3 linked regions of the Homo sapiens genome follow. The protein of the gene in region 2 interacts with the protein of the main gene of each other region in a pairwise test. Each region holds a gene or a part of one and is shown on either strand. Other genes may lie near its edges.

The links. Proteins that work in one complex are often made in the same cells at the same time.
Region 1: the proteins of TRIM62 (region 2) and SP7 interact in binary tests that used the Homo sapiens proteins (3 or more experiments, as listed by UniProt).
Region 3: the proteins of TRIM62 (region 2) and GLRX interact in binary tests that used the Homo sapiens proteins (3 or more experiments, as listed by UniProt).

The regions. Positions count from the first base shown.
Region 1 is NC_000012.12:53,326,327-53,333,364, forward strand, and holds the end of SP7 (transcription factor Sp7), read right to left. Parts: intron 3,095-7,038; coding exon 1,820-3,094; 3' UTR 249-1,819; downstream 1-248. UniProt on the Homo sapiens protein: Transcriptional activator essential for osteoblast differentiation. Binds to SP1 and EKLF consensus sequences and to other G/C-rich sequences.
Region 2 is NC_000001.11:33,158,012-33,165,049, reverse strand, and holds part of TRIM62 (E3 ubiquitin-protein ligase TRIM62), read left to right. Parts: exon of another isoform or gene 1-4,084; coding exon of another isoform or gene 4,085-4,198; intron 4,199-5,105; coding exon 5,106-5,362; intron 5,363-6,681; coding exon 6,682-6,797; intron 6,798-7,038. UniProt on the Homo sapiens protein: E3 ubiquitin ligase that plays a role in antifungal immunity by mediating 'Lys-27'-linked ubiquitination of CARD9 downstream of C-type lectin receptors; leading to CARD9 activation, followed by activation of NF-kappa-B and MAP kinase p38 pathways.
Region 3 is NC_000005.10:95,813,321-95,819,736, forward strand, and holds the end of GLRX (glutaredoxin-1), read right to left. Parts: intron 3,307-6,416; coding exon 3,193-3,306; 3' UTR 3,187-3,192; exon of another isoform or gene 3,176-3,186; intron 1,638-3,175; exon of another isoform or gene 1,070-1,637; 3' UTR 529-1,069; downstream 1-528. UniProt on the Homo sapiens protein: Has a glutathione-disulfide oxidoreductase activity in the presence of NADPH and glutathione reductase. Reduces low molecular weight disulfides and proteins.

The DNA.
Region 1 (7,038 bases), on a different chromosome or scaffold from region 2:
TCATCATGTTAGCGAGGATGGTCTCGAACTCCTGACCTCAGGTGATCCGCCCTTCTGGGCTTCCCGAAGTGCTGGGATTACATGTGTGAGCCACCACGCCCGGCCGATAAACTATTTTACCGCGAGCATAGGTGAGCAAACGTGCACAATAGAATATTCGCCCATGAGTAGTCCCCAATTTGCTAAGGAAAAAAAACCATTGGCCCTCGCTTCACCCTTCCTCTTCTCCTTTTCTCACCAGGACAAAATTTCAAATCCAACTTTTATTTATTAAATTAAAAAAAAAAGACTCCACAAAGGGCATGATCCCTTCCATTCCACAATGTTCTCTCCCCAAGCTCCAGCGGCTTTAACCCTTTAACTTGGGGCCTTGAGACAGCAGGGGACAGAAAAGGAGGATCCAACGTTACAGGAAAGGCACGAAGCGGCTTTAAAAGTCACTGGAGGTGGAGATGGGAGCATCCAAAGTCCCAGGGTGGGGGTGCGTGGATGCACCACCAGATCAGCTTGGGGGCCTCTGTCCTCCTAGCTCTTTAAGTTCTTTCTCAGGGCTTCTAGGCACCAGATCTAGCATAGTGCCTTGCACAGAGTAGGCACTCAATACATACTTATTTGAATCTGATCCTAGAGAAAGCCTTCCCCACCCATTCTTCAGGAGGTGCACCCCCAAACCAATGTCCTCCTGTTAGATGGGCTTCCCCAAAGAGCACATCTAAGATGGCAGCTGCAAGCTCTCCATAACCATGGCAACAGGGGATTAACCTGATGGGGTCATGGTGTCTAAGGGGTGGGGCAGTGGAGGAACCTGCTCTGCAGTCAAGGGAGATGGGGTACATTCCAGTCCTTCTCCCCTCCATAGGACTTGAGGTTTCACAGCTTCTGGCTGGGGCTGGGGATATTAGGGATCCCCCTAATCAAGAGATACCCCATCAACTGTTTAGCAGAGATGTAGCTAACCCAATTTGTAGAGACTTCATTACAAGAGAAACCCTATCAACTGAGATTCTGATGATAGACATTCTATTAACAAGATCTTCTCCACTAACATTTTGTCTATACAGAGATGCATTTGACTAGAATTTCCTTAGCAGAAATGGATCCACTTCCCTCCCCAGCTCACTCTACCTGACCCGTCATCATAACTTACATAAATAGAATTATTACTATTCATTACTCCTGGTACATAGGGGTTAAATATACAGGCCTGGGGGCAGCCTCCCTGACCCTGGGGTCACCCCATCTTTGGGATCAGATCCCCACTGGTCTGCCCCCCTCTTGGCACCCTCTGGCCAGGTCACTAACCCCAATACCCCTGATGAAGAGGCCACCAGGGGGCAATAAATTATCATTATCATTGTGTTTGTAAAAAGGAAAAAAGAGTTCTGGAGAATGGAAAGCAATGGTGTAAGAAGTTGGGAAGACTGAAGCCTGGAGGCTGAGGGACAGCAGGAAATAAGCTTGAGAAGCAGAAAGGGGTACATGTCAAGGAGTGAGATGGAGAAATAGTGTTGGGAGCCCAAATAGAAAGTGTGTTGGTGTGGCAGGGCCAGAGTCTAGGAAGCCGGAGTGCAGGTATCAGGCACAAGGGGAGGGCCTGAGATGAGAGTTTGTGGAAAGCCAGTCTCATGGTGAAGAGAGAAGGTGAGCTGAGGAGGCATGCAAGGAGATACCCAAGCCCAGAATGGCCAGGAGGGAGACAGAGGGAGAGAGCCCCGAAGGATGGCATGCATGGGGTAAAGAGAGTGATTGGCAAGCAGTGGTCTAGAGAGCCAAGAGAGACTGTCAGGGCAGCCCTGGGGTGGGAGACCTTCCACCCGGCTCAGATCTCCAGCAAGTTGCTCTGCTCAGGGCTGCCTCCAGGGGCTTTCTCTGGGGTTGCTGGCGAGGCAGAAGGTCGGGGCGTCTGACTGGCCTCCTCTTCCCCCGTGCTGCGGCCCTCCCCCAGCTCCTTGGGGCCACTGGGAGGGGGACCCGGGCCTGGTTCTCCATGGGTGCGCTGGTGTTTGCTCAGGTGGTCGCTTCGGGTAAAGCGCTTGGAGCAGAGCAGGCAGGTGAACTTCTTCTCCCGGGTGTGAGTGCGCACATGACGCTCCAGCTCATCCGAACGAGTGAACCTCTTGCCGCAGAAGAGCCAGTTGCAGACGAAGGGCCTCTCGCCTGTGTGCCAGCGCAAGTGGGCCTTCAGGTGCGAAGCCTTGCCATACACCTTGCCGCAGCCAGGGATGTGGCAGCTGTGGATGGGCTTCTTCCGCAGCCCAGCCGCTGCTGCTCCCAGCCGCTCTAGCTCCTGGCAATTAGGGCAGTCGCAGGAGGAGCGCCCTGCCCCACTGCCCCCATATCCACCACTACCCCCAGTGCTTGCACCCCGTGGGGGTTTGGCTCCACCACTCCCTTCTAGCTGCCCACTATTTCCCACTGCCTTGGGTTTATAGACATCTTGGGGCAAGACATGCTGGGGCCCTGGTTGCAAGAGGTGGGGAGCTGGGTAGGGGGCTGGATTAAGGGGAGCAAAGTCAGATGGGTAGGTGGGCAGCTGGGGGTTCAGTGGAGGCTGAGCTGGACCTGTGGGCAGTGTCCCTTGCAGCCCATCACCCTGGCCCTGCCCACCACCTAGCCAGTTGCCTCCAGGGTGCATATCCCACCATGGAGTAGGAGTGTTGCCTGGGCCTGGTGAAATGCCTGCATGGATGCCTGCCTTGTACCAGGAGCCATAGGGGTGTGTCATGTCCAGAGAGGTGTAGACACTGGGCAGACAGTCAGAAGAGCTGTGCCCCTTGGGCACTAGTAGCCCAGGGTCCTGGGTGCCTGTGGGCCCAGGGAATGAGTGGGAAAAGGGAGGGTAATCATTAGCATAGCCTGAGGTGGGTGCTGGAGGACTGCCTGCAGGTGAAAGGAGCCCATTAGTGCTTGTAAAGGGGGCTGGATAAGCATCCCCCATGGTTTTGGAGGCTGAAAGGTCACTGCCCACAGAGTACGGCTTCTTTGTGCCTGCTTTGCCCAGAGTTGTTGAGTCCCGCAGAGGGCTAGAGCCACCAAATTTGCTGCACGCTGCCGTCAGCATGGCCAGGGGACTGGAGCCATAGTGAACTTCCTCCTGTGGAAAGAGGGACGCACTGCTTAGGGAGAGGGGAGGAGAGGTACAAAATGAAGGGCAACACTTTAGGACTGAGACCTAGAGACATCCACAACAGAACAGAGGGGTCAGGGAAGAGTTGAAGAGGGTGGAGAATTACAGGTAAAAGAGGTTAGCCAGTGAGGGCTGGACCTCAGGGCAGACTCATGGAGTCGTGGGAAGAAGAACAGAGGCCCAAGACTGCAGCTCAGTATCCCAACCCAGAAGGCAGGAAGCAGAGCTCATTCTGGAGTTGCTAGGGGTGTACTAGGGGCCTCCAAGGAACAGGAGGTTCTTTTTCTTTTTTTTTGAGATGGAGTCTCGCTGTTGTCGCCCAGGTTGGAGTGCAATGGTGTGACCTCGGCTCACTGCAACCTCCGCCTCCCGGGTTCAAGAGATTCCCCTGCCTCAGCCTCCGGAGGAGTTGGGATTACAGGCACCCACCACCACACCTGGCTAATTTTTTTGTATTTTTAGTAGAAACAGGGTTTTGCCATGTTGACCAGACTGGTCTCAAACTCCTGACCTCAGGTGATCCGCCCACCTCGGCCTCCCAAAGTGCTGGAATTACAGGCATGAGCCACTGCGCCCGGCCTTTTCTTTTTATTTAAAAAAAAAATTATTTTTTGAGACAAAGTCTTGTTCTGTCACCCAGGCTGGAATGCAGTGGCCCAATCTCGGCTCACTGCAAACTTTGCCTCCCAGGTTCAAGCAATTCTCCTGCCTCAGCCTCCCACATAGCTGGGATTACAGCCGCACGCCACCACATTGAGCTATTTTGTATTTTTAGTACAGACGCAGTTTCACCATGTTGGCCAGGCTGGTCTTGAACTGATGACCTCAAGTGACCCAAAACTCCTGACCTCAACCTCCCAAAGTGTTGAGATTACAGGTGTGAGCCACCGCACCCAGCCAAAAAAATATTTTTAGAGACAGGGTCTCACTCTGTCTCCCAAGCTGGATGGAGTGCAGTAGCACCATCACAGCTCACTGTAGCCTCAAACTTCTTTCTGGGCTCCAAGCGATCCTCCACCCTCAGCCTCCAGAGTAGTTAGGACTACAGGCACACACCAGGGGCTCTTTTTAAATGGCTGTGAGAAGAACTGGGGATAGAGACAGCAGCTAGGTGAAGTGAGAATTGGGGATCCTGACCCTTGGAAGTAGGTTTGGAGCAGATCGAGGCCATGGGCAGGGCCTTGGAGAGGAAAGATGAGGCTCAAAGTGCAGTGTAGGGAGAAGGTCAAAGTATTAGGGGACTATATTTGCTCCCATGACAGATTTTCCCAGCTTCATCCCATACCCGATATTCCATTTCCTGTCGCTGCTTCAGCTCCTGACTAAGGCAGTGGTCTTGTCTCCCTGAGGTCCAATCCTCATGTCCCTGCTAAGGAATCTCTTGGCAGAGACTCCGGCTGGAGAGCAAGAGGAAGTGATGGTGGAGACACTGGGACATTGAGAGGGAACAGGGCTGCCGCCAAGCCCAAACTGTGGCTGAGACAAGAATGCCTTTCAAGCAGGCAGTGAGCACCTCCTGCTTTGTGGTGCCAGCTGGTACCCCTTTGAGAGGGCTGTAAGAGCCCAAAGTCGTCATGCCCTTCCAAGGCAAGGAATGGGGTAACTAAGATACTGGCCCACAGCCACACTGCTTCATGCCTCAGTGTCCCCTAACATGTAGTCCTTCTAGCACTGTGAATGAAGGAAGACATGGATGTAGTATATGGGAGTCTTTTAGAAATGCAAGGGTATCTTCTAGCCAGGCGCGGTGGCTCACGCCTGTAATCCCAGCACTTTGGGAAGCTAAGGTGGGTGGATCACTAGATCAGGAGTTCAAAACCAGCCTGGCCAAGATGGTGAAACCCCATCTCTACTAAAAATATAAAAAAATTATCTGGGTGTGGTGGCAGGCGCCTGTAATCCCAGCTATTCGGGAGGCTGAGGCAGAGAATTGCTTGAACCTGGGAGGTGGAGGTTGCAGTGAGCCAAGAAGGTGCCACTGCACTCCAGCCTAGGCTACAGAGCAAGACTCCATCTCAAAAAAAAAAAAAAAAAAGAAAGGCAAAGGTATCTTCTTAATGCCCACCATGCTGCTGCTACCAGGCCAAACCACTCTCAAGATCTTTACCTCTCAGGAACTCATGGTTCCTGATGGTGCCTCTCCCTGGGTGAGGCATCCAAGGAGGAAATGCCCTATAGCATCCCTGGCTGGCATAGACGGTCATTCATTGCTGGGAATCCCACCAAAAAAGATGCCCTCAAAATCTACCCCTATACAGTTATATGGGTATGAAAGGGCTAGAAGAACAGTTTTGAGGATTGGGTTCTTCATAAACTCATATGGGCCTGATCCTTTCCCAGTAAGGCTGAGAAAAGAACTCAAGAATCCAGAGTTCTCACACCTGTCTGGTAGCTCTTAGCATGTAGTATGTGTACGATGCCAATCCGAGAGGTGGGCCTGGGGCCCTGGGGTTGCCATGAGGCATGTGTGCAGTCCCCACTTCTGCGCTACACCCCAAGTGCAAACCTGCTGCTCTTCCTGCACAGTTGCCTCTCTCTAAGGTCCCGTTGACTCCCAAACTGAGCCACCAAAAGTTTTCTCCAGTCTAACCACAGTGAACACTCACGGTTCCCCCAGTCAGGGTTTCCCGGGAACCCCTGATCTTCCAAGCAGCGGGTGAGCTATGGCAGGGTAGCTGATGGGGAGGAGTCAAATCCTAGCAGAAAGAAGAGGTAGAAACATGGAGTTCAAAGCAGAGAGGCAGATACCCAGAGATATGGGGCACAAAGGACCTGCATAGGGTAAGGGATTGACAAAAAAGACCCATAGCAATGGGGGAAGGAGGACCTGAGAGGAAAAATTGGCATTGAATAGCAGAAATAGCTATAATTCCAGCACTTTGGGAGGCCAAGTGGGGGAGGGTTGCTTGAGGCCAGCAGTTTGAGACCAGCCTGGGCAACATAGTGAAACCCCATTTCTATAACAGATTTTAAAATTAGCTGGGCTTGGTGGTGCATGCCTGTAGTCCTAGCTCCTCAGGAGGCTGAGATGGGAAGCTCACTTGAGCTAAGTAGTTAGAGGCTGCAGTGAGCTATGATTGTGCCACTGCACTGCAGCCTGGGCAACACAGCAAGACCCTGTCTCAAAAACAACAGCAACAACAAAAAAGAAGCAGAAATAGGCAGGGACCTAAAAGACCAGAAAGGTAAAAAGACACAAACTAAGAAGGAGAGATGATGGAAAAGAGACTGGGCTAGAAAAGCAAAGGAAAGCAGAGAAGAAAAGAAAGGAGTGGAAAAAAGAAAAGGGGGAGGAGGAGGAAGAAGGCGGCCTTCCTACCTAAGAGAAAACCACCATGGTGCTGGGCCCCAGAAAACCCCCAGACCAGGCCACTCCTCCCTTCTTCTCCCCCCTGACCGCCCCCTCTCCCTCTGCCCAGCCCGGCTCCGATGGTTTCCCTGCGGTCGGTTTATTTTTAAAAACGCCGACGCCGTCCCCCGCCCGGCCCTCACACTGCGGCCACAGGGGCCTCAGCCAAGCCCAGGGACCCCACCCAGCTGTGGGGAGGGAAGGAGGGGTGAAAGAAGGCAGCCAGCCCCAGGCCAACAGGAGACCCCAGCCCTGGGGAGTGGAGGCCCAGAGGGCCCTCGAGGGCAGGGAATGGGGAGCGAGGAACCAGACCCACTCAGAATGCTCTGGGGGCTACAGGCTGAGCACGTGGCTAAGTTTCACCACAGCCTCAGTTTCCTTCTCTTGCTGATTGTTCTCTCCTGAGAACTTGGGGAAAGAGCACTGGTTAAGAGTTCTAAACATGTGTCCCCATACCTGATCAAATGTGTTCCCTTTCCAGGGCCCAGCAGTCCCACCTTCGAGTTGTTCCCTCCCGACCTCCACCCCACCACCCTTAAAACAAAACAAAACAAGACAAACA
Region 2 (7,038 bases):
GAGGCCGAGGCAAGATGATGGCTTGAGCCCAGGAGTTTGAGACCAGCCTGGCCAATATAACGAGATGCCTTCTCTACAAAAAAAAAAAAAAAAATTGAATATAGCCAGGCGTAGTGGCACATGCCTGTAGTCCCAGCTACTCTGGAGACTGAGACAGATGGGAAGATTGCCTGAGCCCAGGAGTTTGAGGCTGCAGTAGGCCATGATCATGCCACTGCACTCCAGCCTGGGTGACAGAGTGATACCCTGTCTCTAAAATGAATGAATGAATGAATGAATGAATAAGCCCATTGCCTAGGAGTCAATCCTGAGCATGTCCCCTCGAAGCCCTCCAGAGGTGGCCCAGCCCTGGTATCATCTCCCCTTAAGCTCAGGCCATGGGATACAGACTCTGAAAGGTAGGGCCAAACTCTGCAGTCTCTGGCTACCGTGGTTTGGGAAACAAACAAACAAACAAACAAACAGACTTTTCCACTGACTTGAGAAGGACATGGGTTCTGATCCCACCACTAACTCACTGTGTGACTTTGGGTAAATTGCATGCTTTCCTGGGTCCCCAGCCTTCCCATCTGTCCAGTGGGGACTGCCAGGCTCAGTCCAGCACTCTGGGACTGGAAGGTGCCGGGTGGAGTCCCCACTATACAGAGTGACTCTGTGTCGTGAGGCCTGGGGTGATTTCAGGCTGACCCCGCTCTGTCAGCAGGAGCTGCGGCAGAGCCTTAGGAATGCGCTGGGCCTCTGGAGGTCATCCTGGGGCCTGAAGACACCATTGGAAACCCAGATCTATGCCCCAGCTTGGCCACCAACCCACTGTGGGGTCTCAGGAAGGTCATGACAAACAATTCTTCACAGAACATTCCAGAGTGCCTCTGGGCAGGACCCTCGGGGGCAACAGATGATAAACAGTCACAGGATGCTGGCCTCATTGCTTCTTGCAGCCTCAGTTTCCCCAACTGTCTGGTGATTCTGTACCTCTTGGATGATGAGAAGCAAATGGAAGCCTCTCTCTGTATGAGAGCGGAGTATTATGGGCTGTTCCTTCTCCCCAGCAGCACTCTCTTCTCTCCACATCCCACACCCTCTTTGTTTTTCTCCACTGACCTCTTCCTCCCCCGCTTTCCTGTCCATCTGTCTGCCTCTGGGGGGTCCTGTGGGGCCACATCCCCCTCGAGTTCCCCCAGCCCCACTTCCTGTCTGGACTGGGGTGTTTATACAAGAAATGCCTATGGATGCTTTGGAGGTCATATTTCACCTGGTGCCTGACTCGGCTTTCCTGCTGCGCCTGCCCCTCCAATGGCCTGGCCTGAGGGCCTGTCTGATCTCCCTCCTCAGGCCCTCTGTTTTCCTTGGTCGGCGCCCTGGCGGGGTGATGCATTCTTGGCAGGGTGTTTTTCTGAAAGGGCCCCAGCACCTCCAGGCCCTAGGGTGTTCCAAGGGATGTGGTGGGTTGGGGTGGGGGCTGTTTCCCCAGCCACAGAGCTGAAAGGAGGGGGTTGGGGAAAGGGTGACTCTGCCCTGGAAAGAACTAGAATAAATGGGGTGCACCAGTTGAGCAGAACTTTTCTCTGTGCTGAGAATTGTGTTCCTCTTCATTATCCTGCCAACCTCACAGAATGTCACCTCCACGAGAGCAGGATTCCCTAAAACCTAGCACAGTGTCTGGCACACAATAAGTAGTTATAAAAAAAGTGATTGAAAGGAAAAAAAAATCGGCCAGGCACAGTGGCTCACGCCTGTAATCCTAGCACTTTGGGAGGCTGAGGCGGGCGGATCACCTGAGGTCAGGAGTTCAAGACCAGCCTGGCCAATATGGTGAAACCCCGTCTCTACTAAAAATACAAAAACTAGCTGGGCATGGTGGTGGGTGCCTGTAATCCCAGCTACTCAAGAGGCTGAGGCAGGAGAATTGCTTGAACCCAGGAGGTGGAGGTTGTAGTGAGCCAATATCGAGCCACTGCACCCCAGCCTGGGCAACAAGAGTGAGACTCCATCTCAAAAAAATAAAAAACAACAAAAACAAAAACCAAAAAAACAGGAAAGAAAAAAAATCGTCCCAGGTAGGAACTGTTGTTATCTCAATCTTATCAGTGAGGCAACTGAGGCACAGAGAGGTTGAGGGACCAACCTGAAGTCCCACAGCTAGAAAATGGCAACTTGGGAGCTTACCATCCAGTCCTGTCAGAGCCCAGTGCATAGTGCAGCTGGGATGTCTCCTGGGGTGTCCTGCAAGAGCTATGGCTTTGTAGTCAGCAAGCCAGGTAGGTCAGTAGGACTCATCGGGAATGTACTTGGGGCTCCAGGGGTGGCTGTCACTCTGATGTTCCACTGCTGGCTGCCCTGTCCCTGCCTTCCCCCCTTTCCCTCCCATCCTCTCTCGTCCTTGAGACATTGAAACCCCAGCCTGGAAAGAAGCTGGAGCCTGCACCCAGCTCTACGGAGCAATCTCAGACAAGACTCTTCCCTCCTTCACCCCTCAAGCAACTCCTGATTGCCAGCCTTGTACCAGGCTCTGGGATGGGCACAGGGGTGCAGAGCCGAGGGAGATGTCATTCCTACCCAGCAGGGGCCCACTTACTAGCCAGGGAGACAGAAAATGTGGGACAATGTATTAAGACTGTTGACAAAAGGCTCTGGGAACATCCAAGTGCCTGAAAGAGAGGAAAGTTATCTCTGAAGAGGTCACTTTCAAGCTAGGTCTTGCAGGATGAGTAGGAGTTTGCCAGTTGAATACAGGGTTTGGGTAGGGTCATTCTAGGCAGGTGGAGTTGCAATGCAGTGGCGCTAGGGAGGTAAGCTAGGGTTAAATTGAGAAGGTCCTTGAATGCCAGACTAAAGAGTTCAGCATTTTACTATGTGTCAAGGAGCTAAAGAAGGTTCCTAAACTCAGGATCATCTGTGATTCAGTTGGCACTTTAGAAGGATCACTCTGACAGTGAGTTTGCTGGCAAAGACAAGAGTTGACTTGTAGACCAAGTGAGTTGGAAAGACCTGTGGGACCCCAGAGGGATGTGTTGGGGAGACTGTTGGAAAAATGGGTGTGGCACTCAGGAGACAGGCAAGGCCATCTATATGGACTTGGGAACCATCCTTAAAGCAGTTCAAGTTGAAAATGGGGGCAGGTGTTCAGGGTGAGGATGGAAGGCGCTGACCTGGATGAGCCCCGAGGAACATGGGAGGCAGAGAGGCAGCAGTCACAGAGATGGGAGGCAAAGCAGAACTTTCAACTAGGAGAGGGTGGCGAGTGGGCTAAGTGCTGCAGAGTGGTCTAGGAGGAGCCAGAGGAGTAGCTGCGGAGTCTGGGCGCCTGTGGAGGGCAGCTCCAGGTGGTGCAGGGACGACGGACCCCATCTTCCCCATCAGCAACATGCCGCTGCAGAGGCCTCCACCCTCCCCGGGTGAGGGGGCTCAGGAAGGCCACGGCAGCCTGGCCGTGCATCCCCAGACTCTCGTCCGCCCCCCTTTGTCTGCCTGGCGTTCTGGGTGGGCATGCGCAGCGAGGCTGGCCCACCGCCAGCAGTTCTTCCTGCAGGCCAGCAGCCGCGCGTCGGGGAGGGAACAGGCCCTAATTGAGCCTTTGTAGAGCCTCCCACAGAGCCCTGGGCACTGAACACAGTGGGGTTTCTGACTCCATGAACTCCCAGCCAGAATCCCACAAAGTAAAATTGCAGAGGCAGGCCCCACATGCTGCTGCAGCCTGGCCGCACTTCTATAGCCCGTGTCGTCCTGACGTTAAGCCCTTCCTCATGCGGCTCCCTCTGCCTGTTCCCCTGACCCCCAACTGACATCCTGCCCATCCCTCAGGCCCCGGCTCAGAACCCGTCTCTCAATGAAGACTTCCGGGAAACGCTTATTAGAATTGCAGTCTTCAATAACCAGGCTCTTTCTCTGCGCCTTGGAGTGCGCACAACAACACCCCCTCATTTCATCTTCACCACAATCCTACAATGCAGTTTTTGTTACTCCTTTCACAGATAAGAAAACTAAGGTTCACAGCTCTTAGGCAACTGACGTTGCCATAGCTAGAGACCCAGAGCTAGAGTCCTTACGCAGACTGTCAGGCACCAAACCTGTGCCCTTCACTACTTCACCCTTCCTGAGCCTCACAGTGCCCTTGGGGGCAGAGAAAACCATGAAAGTTCATGCTTACCTCCCTGATCCTGTCTATAAACACCAGTCCTTGCTCCTTAGCCAGAGGGTCCTAGAGGTAACAGGAGACAGCGAGTAACCACCAAGGTTTTCTCAATACGTTGCAATTTACAAAGCTCTTTGATGTCTGTGATCTTGTCATCTTTCCTTGAGCCCCCTGAATGAGCCCCATGAATGATTTTTTTAAAATAAAGACTTCAGCCGGGCACGATGGCTCACGCCTGTAATCCCAGCACTTTGGGAGGCCAAGGTGGGCAGATCACCTAACGTCAGGTGTTTGAGACCAGCCTGGCCAACATGGTGAAACCCCATCTCTACTAAAAATACAAAAATTATCCGGGCATAGTGGCGGGCTCCTGTAATCCCAGCTACTAGGGAGGCTGAGGCTGGAGAATCGCCTGAACCCAGGAGGTGGAGGTTGCAATGATCCGAGATCGTGCCATCACACTCCAGCCTGGGTGACAGGAGCAAAACTCCATCTCAAAAAACTAATAATAATAAAAGCAAAAAAAATAAAGACTTCACTATGTCCTTGAGAGAACATCTTCACCCTGTCCCCTAGCCCTCACTCCAGCTCCCTCATCCCTCCTACCCCCAAGCCAGAAACCTGGGCATTATCCCCAGCTCCTTTCTCTTCTGTACCCCTCTAGCCAACACAGCAGGGTCAAAGAGGCTGCCCTCTAGATGTTTCTCAAACCGTGTTCCTCACCATTGCTGCTGCTCCTCTAGTTCAGGCCTCATTTTCTCACCTGGGCCATTTCATTAGCTATTTAATGGACCACATAGAACATGCCCATCCTTTCCTACCACCATGCTTTTGCATGTGACATTTCCCCCACCACGCGTGCCCTTTCCCACCCTTTCCTCTCTGTGTGTCAAGGCTCTCGATTTCCTCCTCTCACCCAGAGATCACCCCATCTGCTCCCCCAGCCATAACCCCTGACGACTGTCCCCCACAGTCTTCCACCAAGAGCCTGCGGACCACTATCGGCGAGGCCTTCGAGCGGCTGCACCGGCTGCTGCGTGAACGCCAGAAGGCCATGCTAGAGGAGCTGGAGGCGGACACGGCCCGCACGCTGACCGACATCGAGCAGAAAGTCCAGCGCTACAGCCAGCAGCTGCGCAAGGTCCAGGAGGGAGCCCAGATCCTGCAGGAGCGGCTGGCTGAAACCGACCGGCACACCTTCCTGGCTGGGGTGGCCTCACTGTCCGAGCGGTAAGTGCCACCCGCCGGGGCCCTCCCCGGCTGACCATCCCCTCCTCGACCCATGCTGGGCAGTGGGAGTGGAGGCAGATGGGATCCTTAGCAGAGAATTCTTTCATTCAAATCTTCATCAAACATTTACGGGACATCTGCTATGGGTAGGAGCATGAAGCCTTGAGTATGAAGCCAGTGAGGCTTGAACTAGAGGAGCAGCAGCAATGGTGAGGAACACAGTTTGAAAACCATCTAGAGGGCAGCCACTTTGACCCTGCTGTCTTGGCTCTAGGGGTGCAGGAGAGAAAGGATCTGGGAATAAAGACTTCATATATTTACATTATTATATATGTAATATATTCTGTATACATTATAGATAGTAGGTAGCATTTAATAGTGTTTACAATCATAATATAAATATATTACATATTATTTTATTTATGATAATGTTGGCATTACGTGTTACTATATAAAGGCTTTATATTACTGTAACCCTCTCAGTCCCTTTGAAAGTAGTTACCACTGTCATCATCATTTCATGCATGTAGAAACTGAGGCTCCTGCTGGGCACGGTGGCTCACACCTGTAATCCCAGCACTTTGGGAGGCCGAGGCAGGTGGATTACCTGAGGTCAGGAGTTCAGGACCAGCCTGACTAACATGGTGAAACCCCGTCTCTACTAAAAAAAAATACAAAAATTAGCCGGGCGTGGTGGCAGGCACCTGTAGTCCCAGCTATTCAGGAGGCTGAGGCAGGAGAATTGCTTGAACCCAGGAGGCAGAGGTTGCAGTGAGCTGAGATCGCGCCATTGCACTTCAGCCTGGGCAATAAGAGCGAAACTCTGTCTCAAAAAAAAAAAGAAAAAAAAGAAAAAAACTGAGGCTCTGAAAAGCTACATCAGTTGGCCAAGGCCCCCCATCTGGTAACTGGTAAGCCAGGATTCAAGCCTAGGTCTCTGTGACCCCAAATCTTCCCTTAGTAGTAATAACACTTAGTCATTGGTTTGTTGGTGATCAATACTGATTGCTAAGATCATGAATTTGGCATTGACCGTGACCGAGCACTGTGCTGAGCATCTGTATATGTTATGCCATGTAATTCTCACAAAAAGCCTAGAAGGCTGATGCTAGCATAGCACCCATTTTAAAGATGAGAAGACTGAGGGAATGGTTAGAGAGGCCAGAAGCAGCACAAGCAGGCACTTGAATCTGAGTCCCACAGACTTCTCACTCATGACCACATCCTATGCCAGCTGCCCTGAAGGTGGCTGCGGGGCCCCTGGCATTGGGGCAGGAATCCAGTCCCTGGTGCAGCCCCCTTTCCTGCTCTCCTTCCAGGCTCAAGGGAAAAATCCATGAGACCAACCTCACATATGAAGACTTCCCGACCTCCAAGTACACAGGCCCCCTGCAGTACACCATCTGGAAGTCCCTGTTCCAGGACATCCACCCAGGTAAGGCATGGGTTATCATGGTCCAGAGCTAGGTGGGGCATGTCCCAGCACAGCCCAGCCCCCTGTCCTAAACACAGCATGGGGCAGTTGGGGTGAATGAGCAGAGTGCCTTGCTGAGCACCTAGTGTGTTCCAGGACCTGTCCTGGGCACCTGCACAATCACTCAGCTCAGTGGACCTTCATAACACCCCAGGAGATGGCTGGGCGTGGTGGCTCACACCTGTAATCCCAGCACTTTGGG
Region 3 (6,416 bases), on a different chromosome or scaffold from region 2:
GTATCTACATGCACAGTGTTTTTGAATTCCAGAAGAGGGAACGATGATTTTTCAGTCAAAAGGCCATGAGAGGAGAGAGAAAATATAGGGGAAATGATCTGTAAATCAGGCCTTGAACGAGGAGGAGTTTCAAAGTAAAACAAAGAAGAAAAGGCATCTCAGGAGAAAGAAACACAATGAACATGGACAAAGAAGTGTGAAAGTGCAGGCAAGTGGTCCAGAGTGGATCAGATACTATAACCTCCGGTGGGAGGGCTTTCATATTGTGCAGTGTGTAAACTGAACAATTATCCATAGCAATCCTGGTGTAAACTGAACAATTATCATAGCAATCCTGGTTGAAGGGAGTGGTTAGGGCCCACAAAAGAAAGAAGCGAGAAGTACAAGGGCCTTAAGTGGGAAATGGCAAAAAGGAATATGAAATGAAAAAGACTGTTATTAAACCCTAAGCATTATTCAGTAAGCCAGGGCTGGCATTTATTTCAATATGAAATTTCAAAATTATATCAGCCATTTGTACTCAGTGAGTGACAGCAGCACGTGTCTTTATTTATAATGGCAGGGCCAAATATAAACACAGTTTTAAGTTAGTGTATTTCGCATAACATTCCTTAATGTCTTGAGAACATGCAAATGAATTGGACAAAAATCACTGAATCATCTATAGGTTTTTTTTATTAGAAAAGAAATTAAGTGTTGTCACTAGAGATTGAAGGAAATTAACAATCTTACAATTCTAGAACAGGCAAACTTCATGATAAGGGATTCTTAAGTTTTCAAAGTGTAGGAGCTCTTTCACAGATACACTCTTGGTGTAGGGGGCTGTAAGTTTTATCAGATGTTTTACATTTCATGCTTTAATCTTTGCTGGTAGTCTAAATAAAATAAATACACAGTGTTCAGGATTATCTGGATAGCCATCTTAAATAACAGAGTGTTCCGCATGACCACAGCCTCTGCACTTGTGCCTCTGATCCATATGACACCAAGACCAACTATGCTTTTCATATGATTTCTCCAATTGGGTCCTGTGACCTTTCACAGAATTGTTGAACATTTCCTATGAGATCTGTGGAGGACAAGGTGGAGAACACTGGTTCAGAGCAGTGATTTTCAAGGTGGGATGGGATGGGGTGGAGTTGAGTGGAGAGATGCATGTAGTTAGAAAGAACACATTCAAAATACCCACTGATTTCATAATACAAACTCCATAAAGTCAAGCAGCAAAATGATTTTAGCTAATGGGCAGTAGCAGATAACCAACTGTGGATTCATCATTGTGGAGAAGGAGTCTGGATAAACATAGTTGAAAAACACTGGCTTAGAGGTAGAGACATGCCGACACATGGAGAACAGTAAGAAACGCATGCCAAAGAGGACAATTGAGGGTCAGTGAGCGAATCCTGGGCCAGAACTTGTCACAGTCTTCTGAAAACCAAAGAGCACATCCAGAAGAAAACCAAGATGGCCCGTCAACCTTCTTGGCCCTGTGATTAAGAGCAAGTTGGTCCACTTTTAAATACTGAGCCAAAAGAGGAAAAAAGCTGTTTGTGCCCCCAAATTCATCCACCAGAAGTGCTGTCATCATTTGCAATGCCATCCAGCTCTTGAGGAGGGACGTCAGCATGGGGCCTGTTCTGCCAGGAAAGAAAGAAGGGATCTCCTTGTAAGGCAAAATCCTTCCTTTCTCTCATTACCAGAACACTTACACCTGCCATTTAAACACACTCTGTTGCAGATGGCCTTGAGATGCAGCTGCCAGTAAAATACTGACAGCATAGAACACTGAAGGAAAAGGCCAAATGCAAATAAGGAGACTTTCTGAATATGGGGGACTCTAATGCCCACACCAAAATAGAAGCAGTTGGAGAAATAACATTTCCCATCTTCTCTCATTCTTAATCTAAGCCTAAATTGCTAAACATGTCCCAGAATAGGAAACCATTAATTGGGTTTGAGTGCTTTTAGTACCAGTGGTAAGGCCAGGAAGTGAACTCAGACAGACATAGGGTGCACCTGCTGTGATGATATCGTAGAATTCTGATTAGAAGATTTATAGCATTGACTATTTCATTTCAGAGAAATCAGTGGTATTTTTTCAGACCTTTTTCCCCCTTCTGTTGCTATGCTGAGTAACCATCACAAATAATGTATACTCATTGCCCAAGAAATGAGTTATTAATTAGCAGGCAATAGATACCCCTCCAAGAACATTTTGGTTAAAGAACCATTCATTTCTCCCTCAACTAAAGCAGCATTTACATCTCTCTGGGTACAGGTCTCTGAATTGGCCTGCTTGGGAGCTAGCTAGCGCTAGCTGTGCTGGGGAACTGGGGGAGGGAGGAGCTCAGACTCCAAAACCATCACGGTTCCCTTCTGAAATGTTCATCGCCCTGTGGTTTTCCACAGAGCCAAAGATCTCCTTTAGGTTACTGATTTTAGAAAACTTTGTTTTGGCTTTTGGGAAGCCAATTAAATAGAGTTGATTTGCCAAGTGAACACAGGTAAAGCCAAAATGACCTGTGTTTCACATTGCGTTTTGAATAAATCCAAATTGTTTACCATGGCCTGGGTGCTCTGGCCCCTGCCCACCTTTCTCGCTATTCTTCCTTTTCACTGCACTTCATTCACTCTATTCCTGCTTTCTTTCTGTTCCACGAACATCCCTTACCTGTTGCCACCTCAGAGCCTTTGCACTTGCTATTCCCTCTGCCTGAAAAGCTCTTCTGCTTCATCTCTGCATAGCAGTCCCCTTGTTAACCAGGTCTCAGCTCAACCCTTCCTGAGAAAGGCCCTCCCTTACCATGTTAGCTCAATTTTCTCCCCACCCCATGACATATTCTGTCACATTATTCTATTCTATTTCAGGATTTGCTTGTTTTTGATCTGTCTACCTCTCTAAAATATAAGTTCCAGGTTATCATTTTATGCATCATTATATTCTCATGTGTCTGGCACATGCTTAATAAATATTTCTTAAATGAAGCTTGAGTGAAAGGATTTCTCTCATTGACACGATCTCTTTGTAAAGTGTGAAATTCATAAGTGATTGACATCACCATTCCTCAACTCACCCCAAATCATTTCTTCCCCCAACCAGAATGCTGTCATACAGTATAACAAACCACGACAGAAGAATTCCACGGTCTCCCATGTTCCTGGCCCAGCACCTCACCTGCCACTCACCTGTGGTTACTGCAGAGCTCCAATCTGCTTTAGCCGCGTCAGCAGTTCCCCACTCTGTTGCAAAGAGACTAGATCACTGCATCCGCCTATACAATCTTTACCAATAAAGACTCGAGGCACCTAAAAAAGCACACGACCCAGGACATTACTACATTACTAGATTAGACAGAACATTTCTATCCTACCACTAAATATTTCCCGTGATTCCAAACTTTTCAAATCACTTTAAAACCTCCTTATGTATATGCTCACAGGACAGGACTTCCTTTCTGTTATAAGGGGTAACATTATTAACTCGAGAATGTTTTTACGCCAGAAGAGTTTTCAAGTTGTGTGCTATGCATGAGCTTGTCCAACTTGTCAAAGGGATTTAAAAATTTCACTCTACAGAAACATGTTTCAGAAGGAGAATTCTGATTGGCTGCAGTCAGACCACCTAGATTGAACTCTGCTTTCTCTGCATCAGGGACCACACCTAAGATTGTAAACTGGGTCACAGCAATCAGGAAGGAAGGAGTTCGTTTCTAAATACAGCTGGAAAAGTATTTGCATTACGTCTCTGATTTTTCAGGTCCATGGTTTATTAAGTACAATCATCTCTCTGTGTTGTTAAAACACAGGTGAGGGCCAGGCACAGTGGCTCATGAATGTAATCCTACTACTTTTGTGAGGCTGAGGTGGGAGGGTCGCTTGAGCCCAGGAGTTCAAGACTAGCCTAGGTAACATCGTGAGACCCCGTCTCTACAAAAAATACAAAAATTAGCCAGGCATGGCGGTGCATGCCTGTAGTCCCAGCTACTCAGGAGGCTGAAGTGGAAGGATTGCTTTGGCCCGGGAGGTCGAGGCTGCAGTAAGCTGTGATGGTGCCATTGCACTCACACCTGGACGACAGAGCAAAACAAAGAAAGCAAAACAAAGCAACACAAGTGAGCTCTGTCCTCAACCAGGGGGGTGTAGTGGTGTTTGAGTCTCCTTTAATCGCTGGTCCATCATAAGATGGTTAACTCACCCCGGATGAGGGTGCGTCACCCACGCCAAGCCACAGTCATGACACCTGCTGAATAGGCTCCTCTCTAGTTACACACTTCCTCCCTGCTGCTAGGAGCAGACACATTCCAGAATTCCAGAGGGCTTTTAGAATCGCGAGGGAGGAGGAAATACCCTCAACGTGGCTGAATTTATAGGCCAGGAGTGTTCCACCAAGGCTGCCTGGCAGTGAAGAAAAAAGCCCCATGGAGGTCACCGCGTCATCAGAGCCAGCGGGCCTCTCCCCGAGTACCAGGAACGCACTGGAGGGGAGGGAGAGGTGGAGGCAGAAAGCAATGAGACTATTTTTCAAAGCTTTGGGCTTTCCTCAGAAAGCATAATAATTGGAGCAAATTGTCCAAAAAGTGAGAAAGGTGAGAAAAGGGGCTTCATTATTGTGGATAAGTTCTTACAGCACTTTTATTAAAAAGGGGGTCTGGGTGAAGGTAGGCATTAAAAATAAAGTCTAAAAATTAAAAACAAATCTTGCACATTTCCATGGCTATTCCCTGTGCTCTCACAGGATAACTGAGGCTTTGAAAACCCACAGCCCTGGAGCTGCCCCCCAGCCTCCTGAGATGACCCTGAAATGTGACCAGGCTGCTCCCAGCGTGGAGTTTTGTGCTCAGTGTCTGGCAAAGAAGCGAAAGGCTCCTTTACCCTCACACCCATCCTCTAGTCTGGACAACTGCAAAACTGCCATAAATCGTATCAGTGAATGGTACCCCTAACGGGAGCTGAATGGCAGGCTGTACAGACGGCACGGGGGTGCTGTGGCAGTGAAACCAAAGCAAGAAGTACTGTTGATAAAGTTGAGCAAAGAAGAGGAAATACCCTGTGCTGCTTCCCCTCCTGTCCCTTCCCGTCCCAGCCTCCTCTTTAGAGGAACTTGAGAGTCCGCTACTGTCAAGGAGAGGAAAGAACTGCCACCCCAAAACGAGTTTGGTAATCCTGTGGTTCTTATTCTCCTGCACTAGGTTTCCCCAGCCTCAGCCAGGCAACATCTCCTGTACGCTAGCTAGGGTTACACAAATGCAACTACTCAAAAGCAATTTCTCAACACTCCTCGGCTACCTCCCTGGTATAAGCCACCTTCATCTGTCACCTGAATAACTACTATAGCCTCCCAATGTCTCCCAGCTTCAACCTTCACCTTTGCCCTACTGTCTCTTCTCCCCACAGCTGCCAGAGTGGCCCTTTCAAAATGGGGTCAGATCAAGTGACTCGTCTGCTCAGCACCCACCAGGGGCATCTCATCTCACACCGAGTACCAGTCACAGTTCTTCCAAGCTCCTATTAGCTCTCAGACCTCACCTCCACTAACTCTCCTACTGGCTCACAGTGCTGCAACTATACTGGCTTCCTTACTATTCCACAAACCTGCCAGGCAAACGTCTACCCCAGGACCTTTGCATTCACTCTACCTGTAAATTGTGTACACCCATCTCCCTCAGCTCCTATAGATATCTGCTCGAATGTTCCCTTCTCAGTGAGACCCAATGGCTCCATTTAAAACTGGACCCTGATGCTTCCTCCCTACCTTTCCTACTTTTCCTCATAGCACGTGCCACTTACCAACTCCCAACATACTGTTTTATTACTGTATTTGTTTGTCTCCCCCACTAGAATATAGGTTCAACAAAGGCAGAAGGGTTTTTTTCATGGCAGAAAAGGCAGAATTTTTTCCCCAATGTACATAAAAGTGTCTGGTACATAGTAGGTGCTTAAAAATATTTGTTGCATCCAGTAAAATCATCATTCAAATGCGAAGGAGAAATACTTTCTAAGGTAAACAAAACTTGAGGGAATGTGTTACCAATGGAATCACCTTGCAAGAAATGCCCAAAGAAGTTCTTCAGAGAGAAGGGAAATGATATAGTTCAGAAACTCAGATCTATGTAAAGAAAAGTGCATTAGAGGAGAAATAAATGAAGGCACTAATTTAGGAGCTGTGACTATAGCAAAACAAAAACAGGTTTTACCAAGTACATGGCTTGATTGAAGCCACTAACTTTCCATAATCATGTCCTGCTGATTACCTACTAGATACAGCTACTTTATAGAATAATTAAGACTGCAGGATCAGGCCGGGCGCCGTGGCTCACGCCTGTAATCCCAGCACTTTGGGAGGCTGAGGCGGGTGGATCACGAGGTCAGGAGATTGAGACCATCCTGGCTAACACAGTGAAAACCCGTCTCTACTA